Regions from separate parts of the Homo sapiens genome. Here all the other regions are reported to be linked to region 1. The links are microRNA targets in miRTarBase. Many come from high-throughput screens and were not tested one by one. Region 1 holds a microRNA gene; each other region holds the end of a gene's coding sequence.
What was found. Region 1 holds the annotated microRNA hsa-miR-6715b-5p (ACAGGCACGACUGGUUUGGCA, at 3,516-3,536, opposite strand). A microRNA usually pairs through its seed, bases 2 to 8, with sites in the 3' UTR of a target mRNA and lowers its output. Matches are read on the target gene's strand: a 7mer-m8 pairs with bases 2 to 8, a 7mer-A1 pairs with bases 2 to 7 and ends in A, and an 8mer does both.

Region 2: miRTarBase lists PPM1F as a target of hsa-miR-6715b-5p. Seed matches in the 3' UTR shown: 7mer-m8 at 1,635-1,641 and 7mer-m8 at 2,957-2,963.
Region 3: miRTarBase lists LRRC40 as a target of hsa-miR-6715b-5p. The part of its 3' UTR that is shown has no 7-base or 8-base seed match.
Region 4: miRTarBase lists CCDC59 as a target of hsa-miR-6715b-5p. The part of its 3' UTR that is shown has no 7-base or 8-base seed match.

Annotation. Positions count from the first base shown.
Region 1 is chr10:112,296,143-112,303,262 of GRCh38, forward strand. MIR6715B (microRNA 6715b) reads right to left here and starts at 3,546; the gene lies at 3,470-3,546. TECTB (tectorin beta) reads left to right here. Exons shown (of 11, transcript NM_058222.3): 8 at 1,927-2,089; 9 at 3,350-3,422; 10 at 5,959-5,991. MIR6715A (microRNA 6715a) reads left to right here and starts at 3,470; the gene lies at 3,470-3,548. RefSeq lists an enhancer at 6,229-6,523.
Region 2 is chr22:21,916,448-21,923,567 of GRCh38, reverse strand. PPM1F (protein phosphatase, Mg2+/Mn2+ dependent 1F) reads left to right here. Exons shown (of 8, transcript NM_014634.4): 8 at 97-4,143. The coding sequence ends at 476. Among named protein-coding and RNA genes, the nearest start is that of PPM1F-AS1, 18 kb to the left of the region's middle. RefSeq lists enhancers at 1,686-2,344, 3,006-3,665, 5,841-6,651.
Region 3 is chr1:70,139,047-70,146,152 of GRCh38, reverse strand. It overlaps LRRC40 (leucine rich repeat containing 40), which reads left to right. Exons shown (of 15, transcript NM_017768.5): 15 at 248-1,348. The coding sequence ends at 353. It overlaps LRRC7 (leucine rich repeat containing 7), which reads right to left. Exons shown (of 27, transcript NM_001370785.2): 27 at 1,789-7,106. Among named protein-coding and RNA genes, the nearest start is that of LRRC40, 63 kb to the left of the region's middle. RefSeq lists an enhancer at 4,888-5,389.
Region 4 is chr12:82,347,213-82,354,332 of GRCh38, forward strand. It overlaps CCDC59 (coiled-coil domain containing 59), which reads right to left. Exons shown (of 4, transcript NM_014167.5): 4 at 5,091-6,100. The coding sequence ends at 5,939. Among named protein-coding and RNA genes, the nearest start is that of CCDC59, 7.6 kb to the right of the region's middle.

The DNA of each region.
Region 1 (7,120 bases):
CTCACAACACTGGGCCCCTTTGGAAAAAAAAAACCCAGTTTGCAAAAGTTCCTGGAGAGATGGCAGGAGATATATCATAAGGAATTTCCCTGTACACATGGATGCCCCAAAAGCAGCATACTTATCTCAAAGAGCAATCTGACATGGGAAAGGAGGCTCATGCAGAGAGGGCATAAAAGCCTCCTGTGGGCTTCCACCATCTAGAGGCAGCTGCCACTGAAGTGTGGGTGCTGCAGCTGGTGCCAAGAAGCAGCAGTGCCAAGGCATCTAGATCTGCCTATTTTTTGCCTCCTCCCCACCCCCTGACAAAGCTCTGCTTACATTATTTTCCACTGGCTGACCATGCCTGGGGCACTCTGGCTGCAAAGAGCTATTTTAAGAACTCCCATCTTGAGTTCATACGAGGATCTCGTGTTTATTGACAAAATGATCCTACAGAAGTCTTGTTTCACAACTTGGAAAATGCCACAGTTTCATCACTGTTCAGAGCCCACCACACACAGACCCGGCTCTGACCCCTGGTCCAGATACAAAGGTACAGCATTCCCTCACTTCACTCCCTCACTCTCACACTTGACTTCCTTAGTGCCTGCCTTTAGCTTGGCCCCCCGTTGTCTGTTTCTGAGGGAAAAGGGGTGGGGTAGAGAACATCATGAAGGTTCCCTGGGGTAACTGGACCGCTCTCTGGCGTGTGTGCCGAGTTTACCATACAAGAAGAAAGATGCTTCAGAGTTGCATTAATCTGGGGCCTGCTATGGTGCTATTCAGTGGTCTGACGCTTTCGAAACATAGACCTTTTCCTGCAGAGCGACAGACCCTGCTACCCCGTGCTACCTGCAGATAACAAACCCCCACAATAGTGTGGGCTTCTCTGTACAGTCCCAAGAATGGTTGCGTCTGTTTCCAACACCTAGTTAAAGGAACGGCACTTAGGTCATCAGTCTTTGTTAAATGAAAAAGTATGTTTGCTGAAACTAGGGTTTCTCAATGTTGGCACCTTGACATTTGGGGTGGGACCATTCTCCACTGTGGGGGCTGTGCTGTGCACTGTAGGACGTTCAGCAGCAGCCCTGGTCTCCGCCCACTCACTAGATACCAGCAGCACTTCCCCCAGCCTGGACAATCACAGTGCCAAATGTCCCCTGGGGCACAAAGTGGACCAAGCGAGAACCACTAGCTTAAATAAATGCCCATCTGTGTCATTTTTTAAACTGAATTATTACCTTTGAGACGTTGGAATATCATACAAATATTGTATTCTCATTATAGAGAATTTGGAAGAATACATAAAAATACAAAGAAGAAAACCAAAAATGCCCATAATTTTATCCCTTTGTATCAGCCTGTGTTAACATTTAGACGGTATCCTTCAGTCATTATTTCTGTGCTTATATTAAAAATGTGACCACATTTTTACAAAAGTAACTATGTAGATATATATAATTTAAATAATATACCATAAATACAAATTTTCAATGCAAAACCTCACAGTTCACACACAGAAATGTGTTGGGTGTGACTTGAGCTTAGGCAGCTGTGGCAGCAGGGGCAATGCTGCACCTGGTGCCATTGTCCTTACTTTGTATGTCCCTCAAGGGCTGGACATATTCCAGTCCTCGGAGGGCCTTATCTCCTAGGGATTTTCTTTCTTTGGGACACAGGTGTAACTTACTAAAAGTGTGACTCTTATAAGTCACTCCCCTCCCATCGTACCTTGTCTATAGAATGAGGACAGTAATACCCATCTCCTAGCTCATCAACTTGACCTCACAGTTGTGAAGATCAAGTGAGGTGCTGCTAATCAAAATGCCTGGGAAGGTTAGAGGTCATATAACCACCTCGGGAGCCTTGTGTGTAAATCGCTCAGCAGCTCTTGCTGGAGTTCAAGGAGATGACAGTTCACTCTTCTTTCCCCATCTGCCTCAGCTGCCCCACGGATGAAACCGTCCTCGTGCATGAGAATGGGAGAGATCACAGGGCAACCTTCCAATTCAATGCTTTCCGGTTCCAGAACATCCCCAAACTCTCCAAGGTGTGGTTACACTGTGAGACGTTCATCTGCGACAGTGAGAAACTCTCCTGCCCAGTGGTGAGCTGCCTCTCTCCAGAAGGACAATGTTACCTAAAGGGTGCCAGTATTGGAGGAGCTGGAGTTTGAGTGGGGAGATCATAACCAGGCCAGGGCAGCTGTGTGCTGAGGACATCTGGAGGAAATGGCACTGAGTATAAGGGCAGATGCTCGTGAGGGCAGATGCTCAGGGCCCTATCTGCCCTGCCTCCAACAACCCACATGGTCTGGCATGTGTCGCCTAACCTGCTGGGACCTGCTTTCTCATCCTTAAGCAAAGTGTGTTAAGTAATGATGGCCCTTCCCTCATCAGAGGGCAGTGTAGGTAAATGAAAGTGATAACAGACTTGGAAATACTTGGAAGAAGTGAAAAGGGCAAGGGAAATTCAAGGTCTAGGTGGCAGGGACAGGCCGTGGAAATAACTCAAAAGGTGGGTGTTTTTAGTCTTGACTGAACAGCCCGAGGGTTCACCTCTGTGACTTCAGAGAGATGCTGCAGAAATTCCCGACACTGGATCATGGCTGATTTGACCACGTGAGAGGAAGGCCTGGGCAGGCTGTGCTTTAACAAGCCAGCAGTCATGCCGGTGCTCACTCAAGCCTGAGAACCACCACTTAGACACTTAGACATGCCAAATCTCAAACTGTTCTCCTTTCTGGTCTCTTTCAACTGGAGACCTCGGTGTTTCCAAAGAGGCTGCTATCCACATAGCCTATAGTAACCAACAAAAATAAGGTCATAATCTCTATTGCTGTTGTTTCATTTGGCCAGAAAATGGTTCTTTATGAGCACAAACAGCAAAAGGGAAAGAAACCAGAGAGTGCAGAGCCAGGGAGAGGAGGGGAGAGACACTGTACAGTTGATCAAAGGATAAGTATCAATGCCATATTTTTAAAAAGAAAGAAAAGAAAATGAACCAGAATACAATTGCAAGTGTCCACTTCTCTAATTATTGTGGTGAGAGTGGTAAGTAGAAGCCTTATCAAAGGAAATGGGATCAATCCCTTCCACACTCAATGACCTCTTCCAGAAGGATTCCCTCTGGCTTGAAGAGTTAACAAAGTAAAGCTTTCTCTTTGTATTCAAGTTGGAGAAGGGATGAACAGTGTGTCTTCTGGGTTATTTTTTAAAAAGGTAACTCATCTCTGTTGACTGGGGAATTGTGACTCCACCCCATTTGTGACCTTTTTAAAATATCTTTTCTTTCTCTTTTCTCCCCTTTGCTCACGCATCATCCCACCTTCCCCGCTTCTCTCCTGTCTGCCTCTCTGGGTCTTCAGACCTGCGATAAACGGAAGCGCCTCCTGCGAGACCAGACCGGGGGAGTCCTGGTCGTGGAGCTCTCCCTGCGGAGTAAGCGTCTCTGTTTTCCTCTGTTTTCCAAACGGTTGAGTTCACGCTGGGCTGCGTCCACAGGCACAGCCGGTTTGAGCATTTTTACTGAATTGCCAAACCAGTCGTGCCTGTGGGCACAACCTTCACCTGCTCCTGGAGTCTTCCAGCCAGGGGTGGGGAACAGCTCAAGCCAAACGAAGGAGTTGAGGTTTGTTATCTACTCTGAAAGTTCTAACTGCACCCTAAATTCAAATACCCCCAAAGAATCAGGAAGTGCTGAGCTTCCAAACAGAGCATGCAGTGAACAATAATAATAGAAAATGAGATGTCATGGGGCCGGGCTCGGTGGCTCACGCCTGTAATCCCAGCACTTTGGGAGGCCGAGGTGGGCAGATCACTTGAGGTCAGGAGTTTGAGACCAGCCTGACCAACATGGTGAAACCCCACCTCTACTAAAAATACAAAATTACCTGGGCTTGGTGGGGCACGCCTGTAATCCCAACTACTCGGGAGGCTAAGGCAGGAGAATCACTTGAATCTGGGAGGCAGAGGTTGCAGTGAGCTGAGATCGCGCCATTGTACTCCAGCCTGGGCAACAAGAGCGAAACTCCGTCTCAAAAAAAAAAAAAAGAAAGAAAGAAAAAGAAGAAAGAAAGAGAGACAGACAGACAGACAGAAAGAAATAAAGAAAGAAAGAAAGAAAGAAAGAAAGAAAGAAAGAAAGAAAGAAAGAAAAGAAAGAAAGAAAGAAAGAAAGAAAGAAAGAAAGAAAGAGAAAGAAAAAAGAAAAGAAAAGAAAGAAGGAAGGAAGGAAGGAAGGAAAAATGAGATGTCATGAGAATGTCATGTGCAAGTCAAAAAACCTTTACTGAGTATCCAGCACTGCCTGGCCTGGCAGGGCACTAGGATTTCAGAAATAAATGTGACCCAAGCAGGCCCTGTCCTCAAGGGATTTACTGTCTAGCAAGGAGAGAGATGTTAGACACTAAGGGAAAGAGAAATTACTGTTAAGGAGGGTGACAGTGGGCTGGTGCCATGGTTGCACAGTTGATCATCACTAATGTGAAAATCCAAAATCCGAATGCTCCCAAATCTGAAACTTTTTGAGCACCCACATGATGCTCAAAGGTCATGCTCACAGGAAATGCTCATTGTAGCATTTTAGATTTCAGATTCCAGGTTTTCCAGTTAGGGATGCTCAACTAGTATAATGCAAAGATTCCAAAATCCAAAAAAAAATCTGAAATCTGAAACACTTCTGGTCCCAAGCATTTTGGATAAGGGATATTCATCCTGAATGGAGCAAAGGGATTCAACCTAGTACAGGGCTTGCAGAAGAGCTCTGCTGACAATCTCCAAGTGAGACCTGAAGGATAGTGTGACATGAAGGGTGGGCAAAACCTGTGGGAAGGCGGGAAGCTGTAGCGGCTCTATCTTAGAGGACAGTCACCAAGCTATGGCCAAGGGCCAAGGCCCAGGTGCCACCTGGTTTTGTGGCCTGGGAATTAAGAACAGTTTTCACGTTTTTATGTGGTTCAAAAAAAGAATCAAAACAACAATATTTCGTGACATGTAGAAATTACGTGAAATTCAGGGCCAGGCATGGTGGCTCATGCCTCTAATTCCAGCACTTTGGGAGGCCAAGGCGGGCAGATCACCTGAGGTCAGGAGTTCGAGACCAGCCTGGCCCTGTCCCTACTAGAATACAAAAATTATCCGGGAGTGGTGGTGCACACTTGTAGTCCCAGTACTTGGGAGGCTGAGGCCAGAGAATCACTTGAACCTGGGAGGCAGAGGTTGCAGTGAGCAGAGATCACGCTACTACACTCTAGCCTGGGCAACAAGAGTGAAACTCTGTCTCAAAAAAAAAAAAAAAATTATATGAAATTCAAATTTCAGTGCCTTTAAAGAAAGTTTTATTAGAACACAGCAACACTCGTTCATGTAGATATTGTCTACAGCAGTGCACTGCAACTACAGGTGGATTTGTGGTAGCAGAGATGGGATGGCCTGCAAAGCTGACAAAATGTACTATTTACTTTTTTCTTTTCAGAAAGCTTACCAACCCCTGCTTTGGAGAGAAAGCGTTGTGAGATGAAACTTTGTAAACCCCCAGTATAAACTGTCTGAAAGGCAATGGAGCACCTGATGGTTTAATCAGGGGAGGATTGTGGTCAGGTTTTGTGTTTTATTTATTTATTTATATTTATTTTTTTGAGACCGTGTCGCCCAGGTTGGAGTGCAATGACGTGATCTCAGCTTCAAGCAATTCTCCTGACTCAGCCTCCTGAGTAGCTGGGATTACAGGCACGTGCCACCACATCTGGTTCATTTTTGTATTTTTGGTAGAGACAGGGTTTCATCATGTTGCCCAAGCTGGTTTCGAGCTCCCAACCTCAAGTGACCCGCCCACCTGGGCCTCCCAAAGTGCTGGGATTACAAGTGTGAGCCGCAGCCCCCAGCCAGGTTTTGTGTTGTAGAAACATCACTCTGAGACTTCTCCTTTCCATGATCTTTTCTTAAACTTTCTGCATTCTCTCTTTACTCACTACAGGCAGGGGATTTTCCAGTCTCTATAGCTTCTCAGGTAAGGAAAAGAGACACTTCTGGGATTTCGTGGGGCTATGCTGTTAAAAGGCAGAGAGTGTTTTAAGAGAAGCTTAACTTTGGCCCCGGCAAAACTTTTAAGGATTGAAAATTATACTTTAAAGCACACCTGAGTGGCGCAGAGGGGGCGAGATCAAGAGGTCTCCCTCTGACCAGCCCCTGAACTCTGAAGAGAGGGAGGAACCGAAGGTAAATCGGATGAAGCAGAACTGGACCTCACTTCCCCAAGTCTTAGTAAAGCCATCCCCAGATGGCTTCCCTTGGATTCCAACATTTACAGAACAAGATTTTCAGTGATCTGTTCATTCAACAAATATTTGAATTCTTGTTATGGCTCTGTCTTTTATTAACTGAGTGACCTTGGGCAATGACCTCACCCCTCCTCCATACCCTAGTTTCCTCTGTGAAATTGGGCTAATAATTGCCCCTATCTACATGGCTGTGGTATAGATATTTAATTACAGCTAAGGGCACTGAACAATGCCCAGCAAACAGCAAACACCCAGTCAGGGTCAGCCATGATTATGATGACTGTACTGGGAACTGGTCTTGTGGCTACTGCCGTGAACAAGACAGACAAGGCCCCTTCCCTTGCCAATATGTGTAGAGTATTTGGGGTTCAATGGGGGACGTGATTTAGAGAGCAGCCAGGGAAGCCCCTTAGAGGAAGAAACATTTCAGCTAAGACCCAAGATCTCACCTGAATGATAAGAAGGAAGCAACTACATGAGGAGATGGGGTAAGACAGTTCACTTATTAATAATCTCACAGACAGATTTTGCTCTCATCATTACAGGAGAATCATGTAAATCAACTTTTAAAATTCCAATCCTAGATTCTCATCGTTTTTAAGTTCTACACTGAAAGCCCTAGAGTACCATGCACCATCACTGATTTCTATTTGTCAGAGGTCCACAACCTAGGTTTATCTGTCAGGTTCTTTGTACTGATAAATGTGAGCTACAGAATCCCCAAGGGATGAACAAAATCGACTTTGTCTAAAATGTGTGGAATTTTATGAAGACCCCTGAGTTAACTCTTCTGTTGAGTTGGCTTTACCCTTGTAGAACTGTCTCTGAGTGCCATCTCCCTCCCCTTCTGGTCCACAG
Region 2 (7,120 bases), not on the chromosome of region 1:
CTGTCCCTGCAGGATGTGAGGTCTAGGCCTGGGTAGGTGGGGAGGAAGCTGTGGACACCGTGGTCCTCTGACCCGGGCTCTTCTCCGCCTGTCCAGGGGATGTCTTCCAGAAGCCCTACGTGTCTGGGGAGGCCGATGCAGCTTCCCGGGCGCTGACGGGCTCCGAGGACTACCTGCTGCTTGCCTGTGATGGCTTCTTTGACGTCGTACCCCACCAGGAAGTTGTTGGCCTGGTCCAGAGCCACCTGACCAGGCAGCAGGGCAGCGGGCTCCGTGTCGCCGAGGAGCTGGTGGCTGCGGCCCGGGAGCGGGGCTCCCACGACAACATCACGGTCATGGTGGTCTTCCTCAGGGACCCCCAAGAGCTGCTGGAGGGCGGGAACCAGGGAGAAGGGGACCCCCAGGCAGAAGGGAGGAGGCAGGACTTGCCCTCCAGCCTTCCAGAACCTGAGACCCAGGCTCCACCAAGAAGCTAGGTGGTTTCCAGGCCCCTGCCCTCCCCTTCCTCCCATCCTTGTCCTTCTCTCCCTCAGAAGCCTCAGGACCCAACAGGTGGCAGGCAGTGGACAGGGTGCCCGCCCCACAGTGCTTTCCCCAGCACCCCAGAGCCAGTCGGGACACCCCCCGCAGCCCGTCCTGGTGGCTGTGGAACTGCACTGGGTGGCGGGCAGATGGTGGAAGGCAGCTTAGGAGACCTCACCAAAGAGAAGATGGACCGGCTCTTGCTCCCAGCTCCTATTAGGCCCGGGGTGGGACCAGAGGTCATAGGTGCCCAACGGCAGCCAAACCAAAGACACTGGTGTGCATGGGGCAGCATGGTTGTGCACGTGGGACCCTGGGGCGGACCCAGGAGCCAAACTCTTGAAGCACCCCCTGGGTCAGGCCCAGCAGCGGAGTGGCCAGCCCCAGTTTCCCATTGCTCCTCTCTGCGGCCAGGGCCAGGTGGGTTCATATTTACAGATATGCCCAGCCAGTCCTGGTCGGCCACACCAGTGTCCCAAAGAGGAGAGCGCAGCAGAGCCAGGGGTCTGTTCTGTAGCAGCCACCCCCCTGCCCCCACTCCAGGGCAGCCATGATGTGCTTGGGCCCACCAGGGCCTTCCGGGCTGCTCTCTTCCCTGAGCCCGGAACCGGCGACGCACATGTGTCTTTTGTTGGTGTGTTTGTTTTTTTCCAGGGAGGTCTAATTCCGAAGCAGTATTCCAGGTTTTCTCTTTGTTTTATCAGTGCCAAGATGACCTGTTGTGTCATATAATTTAAGCAGAGCTTAGCATTTATTTTATTCTTTAGAAAACTTAAGTATTTACTTTTTTAAAGCTATTTTTCAAGGAACCTTTTTTTGCAGTATTATTGAATTTATTTTCTAAATCAGGATTGAAACAGGAACTTTTCCAGGTGGTGTTAATAAGCCATTCAAGTGCCTTACACAGCTTTGAAGAAACTAGGACTGCAGTGGGCTCGGATAGGCCCATTGAGGTTTTTAGAAAAGCAGGATTTGTTTTGTTAGGGAGGCATGATTTTGGTGAGATCTTTCTGGAAGAGTTTTCCGCCTCTTTGTGATGCTGAACACCCCCAAGGTTCTCCCCTCCCCCCGCTGCCCAGGTGACTGGCAGGAGCTGCGACTGCCACGTAGTGGTGCCTGGGCCCGACAGCGGGGCTCTGGGCATCCCGGGTGACCTTGGCCCATCTGCCTGCATTCCCACCCCCTTGGGCCTGGCTGGATCCCAGGCAGAGGGACCTTGCTGCTGTGTGATTGGAACATTCCCAAATATCTTGTGAATTTGTAATCAAATTGGTCTCATTGGGAAAGACTCTTAATTAAGAGGCTCAGGCAAGCACAGAGGCAGCCCGTGGGTCTCTGTCTCAGTCTGGAGGCAGCAGGGATGCTGCTGGGAGTCCATGGCACAGGCCACAGCCCCTCACCTTGCCGCGGTGGCTGGCAGCACGCCTGCCTTGCTCTGCCCCATGCCCTGAACAGGCATGAGAGCTCCACGTCCCCTAGTGCACCCTGAGAGGGGGCTCACAAGTGACCGATCCTGGGTGCCTCAGGGAGCTCACTGAGGGCGTGCAAAGTTGAAAGTGGCAAGGCTGGGGGAGGGTGTCGGGTAGAGGGAAGAGGGCAGGGGGCTAGGGGAGGACTCAGAGGCCATCTGCAGGGCCAAGCCACAGGAAGGGCTGAGCTGGAGGTGGGCAGGGCTGCTCCAGGCAGGTCAGAGCAGTGCAGGGGGAGGAGAGGAGAAAGGGAGGAAGCTGGGCTGTGTGGTCCCCATGAAGGCATTCAGAGTCCACCTGCAGACAGCGAGAGCCCCAGGAAGGTTTGCACAGCTGTGCCCCAAGCACCTTGGCCTCCTCTCAGCTCGCCGAGGAGGCACGCTAGAGCCGCCTTCCCGGTGGGAGCCCTCTGTCCCACAGGGAGCGGGGAGCCAGCTTTGCTGGGGCCCTACCTGCATGCCCAGCCTTACCCCTCATTCTCACAGCACAGATGAGGTTGAGACCATGCAGTCAATGCATTGCTTAAGGTCTCTTATTTACAAAAAAAAACCTTAAACATAGTCGCTGTCATTCAGACATTCAGAGAATGGTTGGCCACAAACAATGACCAAGTATTGCTTGGCTTAACTTGAAGGCCTGCTGTCTCCTTCTGGGGGTCAGGGACGCAGCTCCACCCTCACCACTAGCCCACCCTGCCCGTGGGCATAACCTTGACGAAGAGAGAGAATGATTGGCATCTGCTTTTCTCTTTTCTTTGCTAATAATTCTGTTCCTGGCTGCCGAGAGTGAAGTTTCACCATGTGGAGGTTTGGCTCCTATCACCTGGTGGTCTGATTCATACCCTAGCCTGAGGCTCCACTGGAAGATCTCGCAGCCTCAGTGTATGGGAAACCCTTTCCCCAGGCTTGTCCCAGCACTGCCGCTCCCCACCCCTGAGCCAGGACCCCAGAGGATGGCCATGCCCCGTGCCTGGCAGAGGTCTGGTGCCAGCACTGGGAGCTGCTCCGCCCTTGCCTTGGGGCCGAGGGAGCCCTCGTCCACCCCTGCACAGCAGCTGGGCACAGAGGAGCGCTCTTCCATCTTGACCAGGACTGCACCAAGAAGCACCAGGTGTCTTCAGCCTCCAACCTCCGGGGCGACCTTCTCTTCCAGCCACAGTCCCATGAGGGCCCCTAGCCAGGGACACTGGTCTGTAAATTGTAATCCTTTCTCCAGCCCAGCTCTCCACTTGTTCCTTGTGTGAGCTGAGCAGGCAGTGCACCTCTGAGTGTCCCTTTTGTAAGGCCCAGGGGTTGCACTGAGTCTGCAGAGGCCGCGACCTCCTAGAACGCTGTGGGTGCAGGTGAGCCGGCGTGTCCTGGGGAGATGCTGCCAGCACACAGGGGCCCTCCTGCTGCCAGCAGGTTGGGGTGGTTAAGTCTTATTAGTGTCTATTCTTAAAATTAAGTGGGCTGGAGAAGAATGGAGCTCCACATGCCAGCACCGTATATGGAATACAAAAGCTGGGGAAGCAGGGCCTGCCTTACAGGTGTGGCTGACTCTGAGCCCAGGCCTGCAGGGGTGGAGGGCAGTCCCTCAGAATCCCAGAGGCAGTCCCAGCCTCAGAACCCAGGATAGGAAATGGGTGTGTTTAGTGGGGAAAGGGACGGGGTGCAGACGGCAGGGCCAGTATGGGGCCCCCTCCCTCTCCTCTCCTCTCCTATGGTGAGCCCAGCGTGGGCACCGGGCCGTCTCAGCCGTGTTCCCAGGGCTGGGAGGACAGCTCTGGCCCTTCTTAGGCCTAGCCTCGTCCCAAGCTAAATGTAAGCCAGTTGGGCTGTGTTAAAGGAAGCAGTGTTTTTGGTTCGATTCTGCCTCTGTAGCTCAAGGGGGGCAGCCCCCAGAGTCCTGTGCATTCTGCCAAGGCTCCATAGCTTTGCCAAATGCACGGAGCTCTGCCATTCCGGTGCAGTGCAGGCCTTGCGAAGGGTTTATCTGCGTTCGTCTCGGTGGGCTTCTCCTGCATGGGAGTTGTGTTCCTGTGCAAGGGGGAGCTTTGCTCCAGGACAGGATGACTGTCTTCCCTATTCTTAGGGACAAGTCCCAAGATGCCAGAAAGGCAGTCTCCCAAGGACCCACCATGCAGAAGTGTCAATAAACCACAAGTTCTGAACTCTGTCGCCCGAGTCCTGCCTTCTTCCTGACTTCTGAGCATCTTGTCCCCTTTGATGTCCAGATGTGTTTGGAAGCTGCTTTAATATTGGGGACCATCTGCAAATCTTGCGAAGCGAGCAGACAAATTCTGGAGAGAGCCCTGGTGGCCTACACCCTCCTGGTCTAGCCAGCAACCTGATTTTCCTCCCTGAGGGGCTCTGAGCCCACCCCCACCAGCAGCAGGAAGGTGACAGGAAAGGGATTAAGCCCCTGGGACCTCACATGACATTGGGGAGCCACAGGAGCATTGAGGACCCCTCATTTTATCCAGGAGCCTGATGTGCCCCAGGAGGTTCCATCCTGAGGATGGAGACCCTCTGACATGACGCTCTTGAGGCCCACCATTTATACCCTCCTGGCACCTCCTGAGGCCAGGTGTGGTGGCGCACACCTGTAATCCCAGCACTTTGGGAGGCTGAGGTGGGAGGATCTCTTGCGCTCAGGAGTTTGAGACCAGCCTGGGCAACATAGGGAGACCCCCATCTCTACAGATAATCAAAAAATTAGCCCCAGTATGATGGCACAAGCCTGTAGTCCCAGCTACTTAGGAGGCTGAGGCAGGAGGATCGCTTAAGTTTGAGGAGCTTGAGGCTGCAGTGAGCTAGGATTGCGCCACTGCACTCCATCCTGGGTGACAGAGCAAGACCTTGTCTCAAAAAAAGAACAAAGCACTGAGCCTTTCTTCTGCCCCCTGCTCCCGCCACCCCGCTCCGCCATCCTCGAAGCCTGCATGGCACTTGTCCCACATGGGAGCTCGGCTGCCGCCCAGAAGTGAATCCACTGCAGGTTCACTGCTGGTGCTCCCTGAGGGGCAGGGTTATAGGGGGTTTTTTCCTCCCCCCTTTAGGTTTTCTTCTAAATCCTAATTTTTTTTAGTACGGTGAACATGCTTTAAAAATGCTTTTATGTAATCTGTCATGGGAATTTTAAGGGAAAAAAAAGATAAAAATGCCTTAACAGAAGACCTGGAGAGATCCACCAGCAGCAGGGGTGGGCAGTGCTAAGCCCTGGGGTCCTGGTAGAGAACTAGGAATGGCAGTGGTGGCTGCACTAGGTGGGGGAGCGAGGCTGAGGGGGTGGGGAGCAGCGCTTCGGTGGTGGGCAAGCCTCACTGTTCCTGGTGGAAGGGACTGGCCCCTGATGGCTGCTTGGACAGATATCAGAAACTCACCTCAGGACCACCACACCTGATGGATTTTAGGGAACCCCCCACAAGGCCCGCCCACCTGCCTCCCTTTGCTCTAGACCTGTGGCCCCCAACCACAACCTCCAGTCCAGACCTCTGTAGCCTCACCCACCCAAGGACGGCCAGCAGCAAAATGCAGGGCCTTGGCCCGAGCGTTGCTGCTGGTCGCTTAGCAGGCTGGAGGGCTGGTTCCCCCTGAAGCCCCAGGATAGCACGCACAGGCCCAGTCCCATGTGGCTGCAGCTCCTAGCACACATGAAACTGCTCTTGGAGACGGCTTCAGAGCCTTCTCAGTGCCCTCAGGGGGTCAGTATTGAAGCAGCCAGTCGTGGGACTCTGTCGACCAGTCCTTCAGCGCATGTTGGCCAAGTGTTTGCCACGCTGCTGCAGGTGCTGGGGCAAGGGATGAGCCAGCTACCAATTCCCCACCTAAGACAAAGAGGATTCGGCTTATCACACAGGGGTCAAGTGCCCCTAGGCCGCAAAGCTGCTAAGGGGTCCAAGCCTTGGAAAGTCACCCTTCTCAGAGTCCCCAATTCTTCACTGCCTTTTGATCTTTGGTTCCTTTCTCAATCAAGAGAAAGCAAGGCAGCAGGGGCCGGGAAACTCGCCCTTGTGCTCCTGGCTGAGCTCAGGCTTCAAGGGCACACAAACATCAGAAATGCCTCCCCGCAGACACTGCCCAGCCACGGCCAAAAGTGCTGCCCTGAACTTCTCCGTAGAATGTGGGGGAGGCCCTCAGGCTTGTGGGCGCATGGGAGCAGCTGTCCTAGGGCTGCCTGAGCCCGGTGCCTTCCCCACTCCCACTTTGCCTGCAGGCCTCCTCTCTCCTGTCTGTAGCCTTGTCTGTGCATTTTCTCCTGGTCCTTCCCAAGCCACCTGAGAGAGCTCTCAGTCCCCTCCCCCGGCTCCCGGCAGTGCCTGCTGCCCAGGGCTGCAGCCTCCAACTCTCCAGGACCAGCGCCAGAAAAGCAGCTTTTTTTTTTTTTTTGAGAGAAGTCTTGTTCTGTCTCCAGGCTGGAGTGCAGTGGTGCGATCTTGGCTCACTACAACCTCCACCTCCTGGGTTCAAGCGATTCCCCTGCCTTAGCCTTCTGAGTAGCTGGGACTACGGGTGCACACCACCACGCCCAGCTAATTTTTGTGTAGAGATAGGGTTTCACCATGTTGGCCAGGATGGTCTTGATTTCTTGACCTTGTGATCCACCCGCCTCAGCCTCCCAAAGTACTGGGATTACAGGCGTGAGCAACCGCGCCTAGCCAAAAGACAGCTTTATCTGTGTCCACTGTGTCACAGAGGGGGCATCCTTAGGGAAGCAGGGGAACTAGCCCCGGATGCAAGAGCTGGGACCAGGCCCTGGGCCGCCCACCACACCTACTCAAGCATCCATGTCCTCCTCCCCACACCCCTGCTCCTCTGAAGCTCCCAGCAGGATTTCCTTCCTAAGTATCTGCTGTCTTGACTGTTCTCTGGTGAACTGGCTTATGTGTCTGAAACTCATCTTCACAGCCAGATAGTGGCTCAGTGCTCTCTGTCTGCCCCTCACTTTCACAGAGCTGATCCCGGAGAGCACCCTCTCTCAGGACCTCTGGGTGGGGGGGGGGGAGGCCCAAGGGACTGAGGGTGCACAGGCAGGCAGACGGGCTGGAGCTGCCTGGCACCTACAGGGGGTTCACCCATGGGAGCAGGCCACAGTGTGGCAAGTGGGGGTGGGGATGGAGGTGAAAGGGGTGTGAGCCAACCCCTCAG
Region 3 (7,106 bases), not on the chromosome of region 1:
CCCGGGAGGCTGAGGCATGAGAATTACTTGAACCTGGGAGGTGGAGGTTGCAATAAGCTGAGATTGCACCTCTGCACTTCAGGCTGGGCAACAGAGTGAGACTCTGTCTCAAAAAAAGAAATAAAAATAAAAAGGGGCAAATAGAAAAAAAATACAGAAATTTTATTTATAAAATTGCAAATGAAATTAGATGAAAAACCTTGTTAATGGAAAATGTTTACATTCTCAATTTCTCTCTTTTGTTTAGAACATTACTACTGGATGGAAATCCATTCCGAGTTCCTCGAGCAGCCATATTAATGAAAGGAACAGCTGCTATACTTGAATATTTGAGAGACCGAATTCCTACTTAACATGGAGTTGCTTTATAACCCTTGTCATGTATTATTAACCCTGGTTAATTCTAAGGAGGATGTAACATTTGTTTTAGTATCATCTTAAAAGGTGATTATTGTAATTGATCTTGTAGTTTCCCAGTATCACCTACCTGTTGGTATAATTAGCCTGGGCCATATTCACTGCCAGTAAATATTTTTACATTTTTATTTAAGATTTTTGTAAGGTGTTGTATACATTTGTAATGGTGATAACCACAATGTGTTCATACATTTGTTCTAAATGTTTTGCTTATGATTTATCCTGCTAACTTTCATTTTCTTATAGCAAGCAGTTTTTTCAAAAATGAATTTTTATTTAATGTGGTTCAGTATTATAATAACAAAGCATTTTTGTAGAACTGGTTTTTTTTCTCATTTATTTTTGTATTCCATACAATGTGACCAATTGACTTGAATATGACTAGCCAGTTTCTATGTTTTTGTTAGATATAAAATTAAATCGAATTTTGTTGAATACTGTTCTTTGGCATTTAAAAAATAAGACCTTCTTATCTTGGGCCACATGTCAAAAGAAAAAGGAAACAAAAATATATTAAAAATAAGACTTTTCATTACCCATGATAGGACTTTTGTGATATGGCTAATCTCAGTACACATTTCAACTTAAAACCTTTTTATTTACAGCACCATAATTTTAAAATTTACTTGCAATCTTGGTAAGACTAAACTTGCAGTGTTTTTCTAAAAGGGAATTTGATAGGTAAACTTGATTTAATAAAAATTAAATATCATTTTTGTTTACACCAAAATTATCAGAAGTAGGTTGATTAGTCATTATAACACTTACCATATGATTCTATTAAGAAGTCAATTCAGTAGCATGTATATCAATTTATATAGATAGGTAGATAGCTTTTGGATGATTGAGGCATGCTTATATTATGAAAAAAATTGCTAATAAAGATAAATACTACATGTTCAGAATAAAAGTTACATTTTTCAAATATTGATTACAATGTTTATGTTTTCATTTTAAAAAAAACATGCCTTTTTGGCTGGGGGCAGTGGCTTACGCCTGTAATCCCAACACTTCGGGAGGCTGAGGCGGGCAGATCACTTGAGGTCAGGAGTTCAAGACCAGCCTGGCTAACATGGTGAAACCCCCGTCTCTACTAAAAATACAAAAAACAAAACCAAAAAAAACTATCCGGGCATGGTGCATGTGCCTGTAATCTCAGCATCTTGGGAGGCTGAGGCAGGAGAATCACTTGAACCCAGGAGGCAGAGGATGACAGAGTGCTGAGATCGCGCCACTCTGTACTCCAGCCTTGGGTAAGAGTGAAACTCCTCCATCTCAAAAAAATAAAAAATAAAAACAAAAACATGCCTTTTTCTTATTACATCTCTGTTGCTGACTACGAGGTCTGCTTTGATAGTAAACAAAAGACACTTTACAATAAGGTGACATTTTATTATTTATACAATAAGGAGACTTTTATGTTATTCAAAACACTTTTTTAAATACTGAAAAAGTTGAGTACACCAAAGCCGAAAAATGGCTCTGCTATACACTGCACAGCATTATTTTAGTCCCTGTATTTTGTATCTGTACAGAAAGCATCTTCAAAATGCATTCTAATCACATTGTACACCTTTACCAATTAGTGTCAGTACATAAAATAAAACTGGAGAATACAGCTTGCATTTGCAAATTAACTGACAGTAATTAATTTCACTGGTTCAGTAAATTTAAAATATAGATTCATAGGACTTCTTTGCACATAAAATGAAGCAGCTTTCAAGGTTGTTATGGTCTCATACTGCAAAAAAACCAGTAAGTACATTCACGATCTATGTTAATAAAGTAGTAAATATGTCTTCATTCAGTTTTATTTACATCAATATGTAGTTCAACTAAAAAGTACTTTTAATTGTGATATAGTAGTCTTTTTAACACATACAAAAATGACAATTTTTTATATATAATTTAAGCTCAAAATCACAATTATCTCAAAATATTAATTACAATACAGCCATTTCAGTTAAACATGTTGTGATTTGATTTTTTTTATAAAATGGTAAAATTGTATTATTAAAGTAAGCAATTTGTTTTGAATTGGCTAGAGTACACCCAAGTAGAAAACCTTAAATGTGAAGAGGTGTTTCCTGCCCCCTCCCACCCGAATTTGTATACAGCCACCTAGGCTAGCAAAGAGACAGAAAAGGCCCCAATTTATAAAGATTAAGCCTCTTTTGCTATACTGCTGTGGCTTGTTGGTTCTTCCATAAAAGCTTTACAAGGGTAGTGTCAATAAACTATGCAGTGAAATGCATGCATTAATATACAATATGTCTATGTAAAATGTCAATGTTTACTATTGCACATTAAAAGGTTCACAAAGACTGCAAAAGAAGTCATAAAGAAGCACTTTCTTTACCAGTCGAATATTGTAAATTTGAAAACGACTTGATAATATAATGGGATTTCTTTGAAATCAGATCCCAATTCAAGTTCTTTCTCTGGCTAAAGGAGCTCTGGTTACTTGGCCTTAAGATGTCACTGTTGTGCTGCACATATGGTAGTGAAGTCAGAGATCATTAAAAAAAAAAAAAAAGTCTAGAGACTCTTCATTTTACTAAAATAGCGACCCAAAGTTGTATCACTGCTTAGGAATTTTTCTTAAACTTACAGAAGAGTGAAATATTTCACTAACTGAATTATATGAGCTGAAATGAGAAAAAGAAAATTTATGTGTGTGTGTTTGGCATATGGGAAAATACAAATTCATATAGGTAGAAGTAGAACTTCTTTATAGAGTAGTAAAAGGATTATGCCCCAAAATAACTGAGGTCAAAAGTAATCAATTATGAAATCGTTTAGGAAAAAATAATTTTCATAGATACTTAGAAAACATCCAAAACATAATATCTAGTATCCTTTTACATATAATTCTTAACAAACCATCTGAAAACCTACCACTGTCTTCCTTCAGAATTGCTTATGTTAGTTTAATATTTCTTTTTTGAATAGAAAGACCCTAGTTCATGTTATGGTTTTCTTATATATAGCTGGTTGGGGGAGCCCTTGGGCAGTTATAAAGTGGAAAAAATAAAACTGTATTATTACTTTCAATAAGCAACAGTAATCTTGCAGTAGTTTCACTTTTTTCAAGGTCTTTTGTGGTGGTCTTTAAAATTTACAAACAGAATTTGGTAGATTTACTTCTAATTTTCCACTAGTAAAAAATTTCTTCTTCATATGAAGACAATGTCATTATCCTTAAGCTTCCTTTAGTCCCTACTGAGTACAAAGAGAAACTTGATTGGCTCTTCAAACAAAAACTATCTGTTTATCTGTCAATTACCTTTCTCTTCATTTCAAACAGAAAATAGGCTTGTGTTTTCAAGGATGAAAGTGTATTTGAGGATGTTAAAGAGAAATGCCCAAACATTATAAAGCCGAAGTATTAAGCATTCATTGCATTCCACTGACGCTAGGTGTCATCAAAGCTAAAACCAAATTTTCTAGAGTAAAACTTACATACAACAGTCCTTACTGACCTGAACCAGATGCCTTTTCCACATTCAAGCCAAATAAGAGTCCTCTGAGTGGAAAGACTACAAGTATTGAAAATAAAAATTATTTCAACAATATATTCTGAAAATTAATGACCTTTCTAGCAGATATGGGAGCTGCTTTATGTTGTCTGCCTGAGAGTTTCATCTTGCTTTTCCTATGGACCGTCCAAAAATATTACATAAGATTTCCTGACTAAATAAGAAATATTCTTTAGTAGAGGGTTGGGGAAGGGTAAGAGGAATGGAGAGATACAAAGAAATACAATGTGATTTCTTTTGTCCATTTGTCAAATGCTTTCGTTAAGCTATTAAAAAGGTCAATTGACCTGCATACCTGGGCATTATTTAACCTCATTATTTTAGCTGTGCAAAACAAATGTGCAAAGAAAAACACCTCCTATTTATGTGTGCCTATACATAGACACAAAACCTGAGTCACCATAAAAGTTTTCAATATAAGAAACCTTTTCTTAATATAGGAAAATAACCTTTAAAGAGCCAAAAATATCTTTGTACAATATAAGCAGCTAACTTTAAAACTTCAGTGTACTTAAGTATCACATATTTTATAAGATCCAGCAAAAAAGGGATCATTTACATTTGATAATTTTCTTAACTATAGCTGAGATAACCACATTTTAATTTCTAACATGTATTTTCATTCCCCTGAATTCATTGATTTTTTTTTTAAAGCACATTCAAATAAGTCCTGTTTAATTTCTGACAAACAGTTCCTGCTTGTTTCTAGATATTGAGGACATAGGAGATTTAGGATTGCTAGGCCTATAATTTAGTGCCAAGCCACAATGGAATTCCAAAGTTCAAAACAAAATATATCATTTTATTAAGAGAAACATTATTTGCAAAAGTATTTGTAGACAGAGTTGGGCCAAAGTCTGCATGAAGCTATTGTCTCATTTGCAGGCTCCCTTTCTACTGACTTAACTCTTAAAAACCCTTTCTTTCTCCATGCTCCATTTCCTTATTTTTCAGTAGGCTTCATACCCTTTTCGTACCTGAACCCTGAATTGTCCCAACTGAATGAAGCTCCCTTGCTCATTTGCAGCCACCAGTTAACAATGTCCTCTTATCTACATCTTTTGTTATCTCTTCCTCTTTATGAGCTTAGAACTCTGGGATGACTCCTTGGCCTCTCCTCCTGTGCCACTTAACTACTCATTAGAGGAAAATCTGCTTGAGTGTTCCATTGCCTTATTAGTCACTGATTTAAGGCTCAATTCAGGACATACTTATTCCCTGGGCTACACCTCAGTTGCGAACTGAGGAAAGTTGTTTATAGAAAAATGACTGAAAGTTGCTTCTCGATGCTGCTCCCAGTGGTCCTTGTCATTAATTATGCATTTATGTCAGTTAAGTCACTGACACTTAGGGAGAAGGGAAAGCCATCTGAACCAAAATATTCAGTCTTTGTGGCTGTGATTGGATAGGAGGGCCTTTGAATACTTGTATCAGTAAAGAGATACTGGGCAGGGCCCTTGAATGCTTTTTTTCTCAAGCCTGGTTTGGGAATAAGGTGGAAAATGCATGCAAGAGAGTAAAGGATTAGAGGCATTAGCCAAGGGAACTGTAGTCAATTCCTGACTTTTTATATTATACTTGCCTGAGGATCACCAGAAGGATTTTGTCTTGTGCAGAAGGCTAAAAGCAGAGTCATACTTTCTCTGCCAACAGACTTGTTGCCATGGGAACCAGTGCAGAAAAATGAAAATATGACAAGAAGCCAAGGATTAAATGTAGAAAATTGATAGGGAGTTGATTTCTACATGGCAATTTAAGCATTGAGGATTTAAAGAAACAGGATGTTCCTTATGTGGCCAGATCAATGAAAATGGACAAAATGACTTACCAGTAGCTGGTCCTAGGGGGCTGAGGTGTGGAAAATGGAAGGAGAAAGTAGTAAGCGTGCTGTAGTTTGGATAAGGGGAACTTTGTAAAATCTAATTCCACTCCTGATGAGGTTAAGCTTGCAGCCCAATGTTAAAATTAACTGTAGGATCAAATATACCCTTTGGAAAGGCATGCCCATGCTTAGCTTGATAAAAGCAGCCTGATGTAACAATTTTCTTTTCACCTTTCCAAAACCAGCACATACTACTCGACAAGATTATTGCACATCTAGTTTATTATTGCTTGATGTATCTTTTCAATTACTCCAACACACAAAAAAACGAAAAAACCCACCATTTGCAAATCTATGCCTCCCTTCCCCCAATAAGGCAGCTATTGTAAGTACCCTAGAATTAAGTTTCTCATTAAGGAAATAATTATTTTACTTCATGTGATACAAGTCCTCCCTGTGTACCCTTCTCTGTCATTCAGTACTTAATAATAAACTGATCAAACCAGACTGTAGGAGTCCAGGAAAACCTTTAACAAGGATTTGGAGTTTCAGCATAATCTGAGAAGGACCTACATGTTGTATTTTCAAAGGCTCTAAGGAGACTGTACCTGCCGTGTCTCCGAAGCTTTCCTGAAAACCTACAATTAATGTCTCATTCCTATGACTTCAGCTTTGGCCTATTTTGAAATGCAGTTGCTCTAAGGAGATGTAGGAAGGTCACCCTGTAAAGGATTTGATTTAACCCTTCCTGCAGAGCTAGTTTTCAAATAGTAATGGCACACTTCACCTGATGTCCTCTTCTTCCCTCACCCACAAAGGAAAAACTAAAAACATAACGTCCACCTGGGCAATGGGTAGGGCTAGAGGCCAGGAAGTAGGAGACAAGCCATTATAGCATAGTTGTCTTTAGGGTACATCTGAATCCAAATGGTCTGAATAAAATATGCTCTTTGTGCAGTGTTACGTACACTGGACAGATTTCACTAGACATGCTTGTTTTCTTTCTCACTTATGACTTCTGGATCTATTTGTTAGAGTTCATTACTGAAGCCTTTGACAATCTCAATGAGTTCTTGAAATGTCAAAAGCTCGTTAATTTCCTTTATCCCAAGAGTACTTAATTCTGAATCTGAATTCTGAAATCCAATAAAACGCCTGAATGTTCTATCACTTGCTGTTTGATAGTACATGCAGGACCCTAAACAGAGGTTTGAATACTGAGATACTGCTGACACAGAATTCCTTATATCAATATTCTAGTGACTTTTAGGATTGGAGACTTGTGGGCTTGGTTTTTGCAGTAGGAAGCATTAGAATAACCTGATGCA
Region 4 (7,120 bases), not on the chromosome of region 1:
TAATATTTTTGGATTGCAGTTGGCCACACGTAACTGAAACTTTGAAAAGCAAAACCAGGGATGCAGAGGGTTGGGTGGGGGGTGGAGCAACTATGGTATATAGCCACATATGCTGTTAATTTTCCCACAAAAACAGTGAACAAATGTTAACTGTATCTACATGTGTACTAAAGAATGCTGCACATACATCTACCACTATGAAATAAATATTTACTTCTTCAGCAATTGGATGACAAGACAGGTTCCTATTGGAAACTACCAGGAATCTAGAAATCATAATTTTATTGCTTACCCTGAGTTCTTGAATAAATGGGTATCCTTTCTTGATAGGCTTCTTAAACGGCTATATGGGAAGATTGCAAGGATGAGATATGGCTGTCCTTATTCTTATAAAGACTCAATAATAGATTTTATTCCTGTGATTTCTTCAGGTTTGTGTAGATATTGGAATGACGTTGGTGGGGGGTTATAAGGATTTATTTGAACCTTACTTGGTCAATTGCAAATATTTCTCTCATCAGTAGAATCTTTAGCCTGAAGACTAGAAGTAGTCTGATCTAACAGTGCACCAGGAGAGTCCAACAGATGCAAAGGATCTGCTGTAATTTGGGTTGTTCCAATGTGCTGCCTTCTGGTGTACTTTAATTCCATAACACCATTACAGAGTGAGTGGCAATAATTTAGTTGGAGCAATAAGTTAGTTGTAGTTAGTTTCACACAACTGAAACTGGGAAAAGTTACAAGTCTGGTAAAATCATAGCCTATCAGTGTTTGCTGGAGACATCCTCCCCAGTTATTTTATTTGTTCTCTGAAGAACAGACTGAGATAAAGTGGTGAAATTTAAGGTAGAAAATACAGCATGCATATCCTCTAGGAACTGGAAGGCCGACCCTGCAAATAGATAAAACACAGAGCAGACAATGGGGTGTTACTGAGGTCCTTAGAGGAGTGTCATTGTTGGACCACTAATTTGACTTCATAGGCTCCTTATCCGTTTTACCAGGAAGCTCCTTTTCCAGTACCCAGTCATTTTACAGGTGTCATATTTCCCAAAAATGTTAAATACTAACTACCATGTGTCTCAGTCATTCTACTCCTAGGTAGTTACCTAACAGAAATTAAAGTGTATGCCCGTAGAAGACTTATATACAAATGTTCATAATAGCTTTATTTTTAAGAGCCAGGCCAGGAGTGGTGGGTCACACCTGTAATTCCAGCACTTTGGGAGGCCAAGGAGGGCTAATCACTTGAGGTCAGGAGTTCGTGACCAGCCTGGTCAACGTCACAAAACCCTGTCTCCACTAAAAATACAAAAATTAGTCAGGTGTGGTAGCATGCGTCTGTAATCTCAGCTACTTGAGAGGCTGAGGAAGGAGAATCATATGAACCCAGGCAGTGGAGGTTGCAGTGAGCTGAGAATGCACTGGTGCACTCCAGCCTGAGCAACAGAGTGAGACTGAGTCTCAAAAAAAAAAAAAAGAATGCCTATCATGCCTATCAGCAGGTGAATGGATAAACAAATTGTCTATGTCCATACAATAGAACACTCAGCAATACAAAGGAGCAAACTTTTGATAAATCCAACAACATGGATGAATCTCCAAATAATTATGCTGACTTAAAGAGGCCCAGACAAAAAAGTTTATAGTATATGATCCTGATTATATAAAAATTTTGAAAATGCATACTAGTGACAGAGCAGATTAGTGGCTGCCTGGGATTGACTACAACAGGCCATGAGGAAACGTTAGGAAGTGATGGTGATAGGTAGTTGATTGCCGTGATGGTTTCATGAGCATATGCAAGTGTCAAGAGTCACCAAATTGAACATTTTATGTATGCTCAGTCAATTATACCTCAATAAATCTTTTTGTAAAACCCAAGGTCATCAGGCCCATAAGTAGCATTTCCACCACAGGGCTCTCTATCAGCTCCATGGGTGATTCAATCAAGTGTTCTCAATGGGAATTATCCAAATACATAAAAAGCACCCAATGTTAATTTGCCAGCAAAATGCAGATGTCCCACCTTTCAGTATAAATCTTTCCTCTTATCAAACTCCTGGGGAGAAAATTAAGTCTACATATTAAGTTACCTTTCAAGTTAATGTCCAAAGACCAAAATAATCAAAACCCAGAATCAAATTCTCTCACTGTAATAAGGTAAAAGTTCAATAAAATTAAAGCCCTTCCCAGTTTCTTATTGGATTCACTCACAGGCAGAAATGTTCTTAATGCCTCTCAGGATTCCTTCAGCAGCTGCAGCCTGGCTGTCTCTTTTTGGATATGGATACAACACATTCATTTGGCACTTCAGAAGTTAAATTAGTTCAATAACTCTATGGTGTGCCTCAACTTACAAAAGGTCTGGAGAGTCAATAAAACACCCAAGGTAATTACAATACTTGCCTTATACCCACCAAATTTAAAAGGCAGTTATCCTGTACAAAATTATGCTCCCAAAACTCAGTAGTATTTATTGCCAAAGACTACATGTAGCAGAAACTCTATAGCAGGAACTCATGAATCAGTAGGAAGGAAGATAACCGGTGATGGCTTTAGCCTTATCAGAATGCCAGTCACATGAGCTGCACACTTAAACTAAGTTGGAAGAAATTTGTCAGCAACAAGTTAAACTTTTCACCATGCATTTAGCATGGTACTCTATCTTCTCTTTCAGAAAGTGACATCTGAAACACTGATGCTATCTTACCAAGTATAGAATTTGGAGTGGTCCAGTCCCAATCACCAAGTCAAAGGAGACCTGATCTTTTCCCAGTATGTTCAAATATCTTCAGATTCAAAATTTTCTCTTTTACACAGCATTTCAATGACTCTCAGAACAATTTAGACCTTGAGCTTTTCTAGAACTTTATATTGCAACCAAGGCACATGTCTTTAAAAGTAGCAAATACTGATACAGTCATTAACATCTAGCATAGCTATGAATATTTCTTCTTATATCATTAAATCCTTGCCACGAATAAAATTGTTTTCTGGTGTCGAGTTAGCAGCATCTGATGAGTGAGGCCTTTGCTGCTCACACATGCATATTTAATGTAGGCCAAGGTCAAGCTGCAGTAGCCTGCATGAGACCACTTGCACATGCCAGTGCCTTTGTTGATGCCAGCACCACTACAGTAGCTTGCTAAGCCTCACCTTGGGCTGGCATCTGGTGAGGACATCCATGAGGCCAGCATTTGGGTGAGCCCCACTTCCAGATTCTCTGTCTTTGCTGAAGCCAATATGTCTCCATCACCCTCACTCAAACTCTGCTTCATTGAGGCCTGCGCATATGTGCTTAAAGCCCAGTATTGCACATTGTCTCTATAGAAATTACCAATTTCTCTGGACAAAGATATCCTAAACTTTTAGGTCAAAATCCCACGTGCCTTAAGTCTTAAAGCCTCTTGCCAAAACTGCAACTAAAAGCCTACTTCACACTTACAAAGTCAAATTAATAGCCCTAATAGAAGCCTCTACAAACTACCAAGATCAAAGCTCCCTACGTATACATTAAGGTCTGAAACCAGAAACCATAAGCTATGGCCACAATTAAGCCTCTCTCTTTCTATGTTGTGCTCCTTCAAATTTTATTCCTCTTTTATTTCTTGATGTACTAACCCATATAGCACAAATTTCTATATATATTTTCCAAAAATATCCATCCCCCTTCTAACATTTATCAATATAGCCTGTTCTTCACTTATAGTATTAGAATAGCAATTAAGAGTACATGCACTCTGCTGACAGCCCAGGTCCTCCTCCCAGACATCATTTATTACTTTACCTCCCCTGGGTGGAACAAGTGGGACAAGAAGTAAAGATACCATGAGTGTTTGGATGATGGTGTCTTCTCCACATGGAAGGAAACAATAGGGAACCGATAGGAACTATTACCTCCATCAATAATAATATATTCTAACTACTTATTAGATATTTAAATAATACCAAGCTTGCTTCCCTTTGTAACTTTCCTCATGCTCTTACACTTCTAATCTTTTTAACCTCGAAGGCTTTCCTTAAATGCTATTGCACACATGAAACTTTCTCTGATTTCTTAAACCAAACAAAACCTCTTTCTTCTCTGAGGCCCTGGTCCAACATTTTTTAAGTGTGGCGAGGAGCAACCCAGCAGAATCACTGGGGTTGCCTGTTAAAACATCCATTACTAAGCCCATCTACAGTATCCAAATTCCTTAGTGTAGGGTCCTCAAACATGCCTCTTAAGAAGCCTATAGGCCAGGCACAGTGGCTCACACCTATAATCTCAGCACTTTGTACGGCCAAGGTTGAGCCATAAGGATCCCTGAGGCCAGTTCAAAACCAGCCCAGGCAAGGCTGAACTTGGCAAGACCTCATCTCTACAGAAAATGTTAGCCAGGTGTTGGCACGTACATGTAGTCCCAGCTACTCGTGAGGCTGAGCAGGATAACTTGAGCCCAGGAGTTTGAGGCTGCTGTGAGCCATGATCACACCACTGCACTGCAGCGTGGGCGGGAGACTGTCCACCACCAAGATAATAAAAAAAAAAAAAACGAAAAAGGAAAAGCTTCCTGGGTGCTTCATTGATAACACTAAAATCTTAACCTTTTGCTTTATCTGATTGTCACTGATTACTTTTTCCCCCATTATACCATTACTTGGCATTTATTCCTCTACAAGAACTTTGGAATTTTAAAGAGTAACTCCTTAATATAAGTTTTGCATAAAGTAGCTTTTAACAAAGTCGTTAAAATGAATATAATTTGACTTTCACTTGTCTCTCAAAAGGACTAGATCTCCTTCCATGTTTTGTCATGATTAAGTGTCTAGAAGTGAAAATGCACAAAAATTGTAAAGCAATTTACTGAAATAATTTATCCTCCATCATGATGTGATGTGTCTTCACCAATGTAGCCAAATTTAGGCTTTCTGGGCTGCTTACTTTAAATGCAATATAGTGCAATGCAAATTTCTAAAGCATTGCTTTTCTATGCAATGAAGATTAAGTTCAGTGTTATCTAAGCACTTTCTACTGATCTTGAAATGCAGAATAAATTAGTAGACTGAAAGAGCTCCCTAAAATCTTAATGCAATTTCAGACTGTATTTGCTATCATTTATAAAATTTTATTATTCAATATTTGGCAAGTATTATTGGTCAGCCCTTTTTGCTTACAATGACTATATATATATTTCAAGCCTTTCTCATTCTTCTGCAATTTGCAAAGCATGAGAAGCAGTTATCCCAGTGGCTTATCTCAGCTCACAAGGGTACCAACAAGGGAGACAGAGATAATGTTCTTAAAGTATAGGGTCCATAGGAACTGGAAAGCTTAATTCTTGCTGTGACACTGTGGGGTTTCCATCATTATTTAAAAGACCTTAGACTAACAAGCCATGTACATCCATTTAAGGGAATGTTTATAAATATCAGACTTTGAGTTCACTGCTTTGTGAAGGTCGCTTTGTTATATGGTGAGGGCAGTTTATTTCAGCACCCATCACCCTGTAACATGTACTTAAAATAAATAAAAAGTCCAAGAGGAGTCTTTGCCTCCCTCATCATTAAAATAAATTTTAAAACAACGTAACTGTTTACTAAATTGAAATATTTCATTGAAATGCTTCATTGATAGCTCTGATTCCTTATTTTTAAAAAATTTATTTCATATAAATCTCATATGGTACAAAAGTATTACATGCTTGGGCCTGTCTTGCAAAATAAGAGGTTCTTTCAGTTCTTCAGGCCAACCTTCCTTCAGAGGCAAATAAATAAGAAACATGTAGAACATATTTAGAAAATTTTTTACCATAATAAAAATATGTGAACATCTTATATTTAGCATAGTTTAGCAATCCAGTTTATGTCGACAAATTTAGTTCACTGCTGGGAGGCACATGTCACAGAAGAACCTAATAGGCAGCAGATATTTTAACCTGTAGGAACAAAATGTTTAACATTTTTCTTGTATTTTTTGAAGAAGGTACTCCATTTGTACATTCAAGTTTGGTTGGCCCTTTTTAGTCTTTTTGTTCAGTATTTTAAACACTTCCATTTTCTTCTTTTTGTACTGCCTTTGGGCTTCTTCTCTCTCCTGTTTTCTCCTCTCGAATTCCTAAAATTATTAACATATGTAACTTTCATTAGCAACAAACAGTAGATACAGTTCAGAAATTGTCTTGAAATAGCTATTACTAAGCAAACACTCTAAGGTTTGTCTCTTCTATTTTGCAAGATGTGCACTGTTTCTCCTAATTGAAGCAAAGTACCCTCTTTGCCTTCATATTATAATGACCCATGGTATAACAGAGAATTTTCATGATCACAAAGCCCCAGCTCTATATAAACAAAATTTTAAAAGGACATTAAATGTTTTACAGCATAATGGTCATTACTGCACTTCATCTGATATACTGTTTCCAAAGGTGACAGATGGTTGGAAAAAGCATAAAGCTGTGCTAGTTAATACTGGTCCAGTATTCCCATGAAGAAATTTTCCTGCTTTCTCCTAATCTGCCACCAGCTTAAGAACAATGAAAACATTTTTGATGTTAAGAATTCTTAATTACAGATATTCTAAAGCAAAAACAAGCAAAATTACATATCTTTAGGGTATTTTTAACTGACACATTATACTTTTTAAAGCTACAGATCAATAAAACTTCAATGGAAAAACAAGAACTACCACAGTTACAACAAAATGACAATTTTGTTGAGGCTGTGGGTAATTCTGTATTCATTTGAAAAAAGCCTAATTCTGGTCTACAATTCTGGTTTTCTAAATAATAGAGTGCTAACTTTTGCTAAGCTAAAATAATAGTTGTTTTTTTTTTTTAAACAGGCAAGAACACCTCTTTATAGTAAAAAAGTATTTTATTCTAACACCTCCCCTTTGCTTTTACTTTCTTCAATGTAATGTTATGAAAATCATCTATATTTTTCTTAGGTCAGTGGTTCTCAAGTTTTATCATACATAAAAATCTTTTGAGGTGCTTGTTAACAAGTGCAAGTTCCTGGACCAAACTCAGTGAAACTTTGTCCCAGATGTTCACAATATTGACCTATAAACAATGTGTTCAAAATCCTATTTTTGACCTACTAGTATTGCTTGACATAATACAAGCAAGGACTTGGA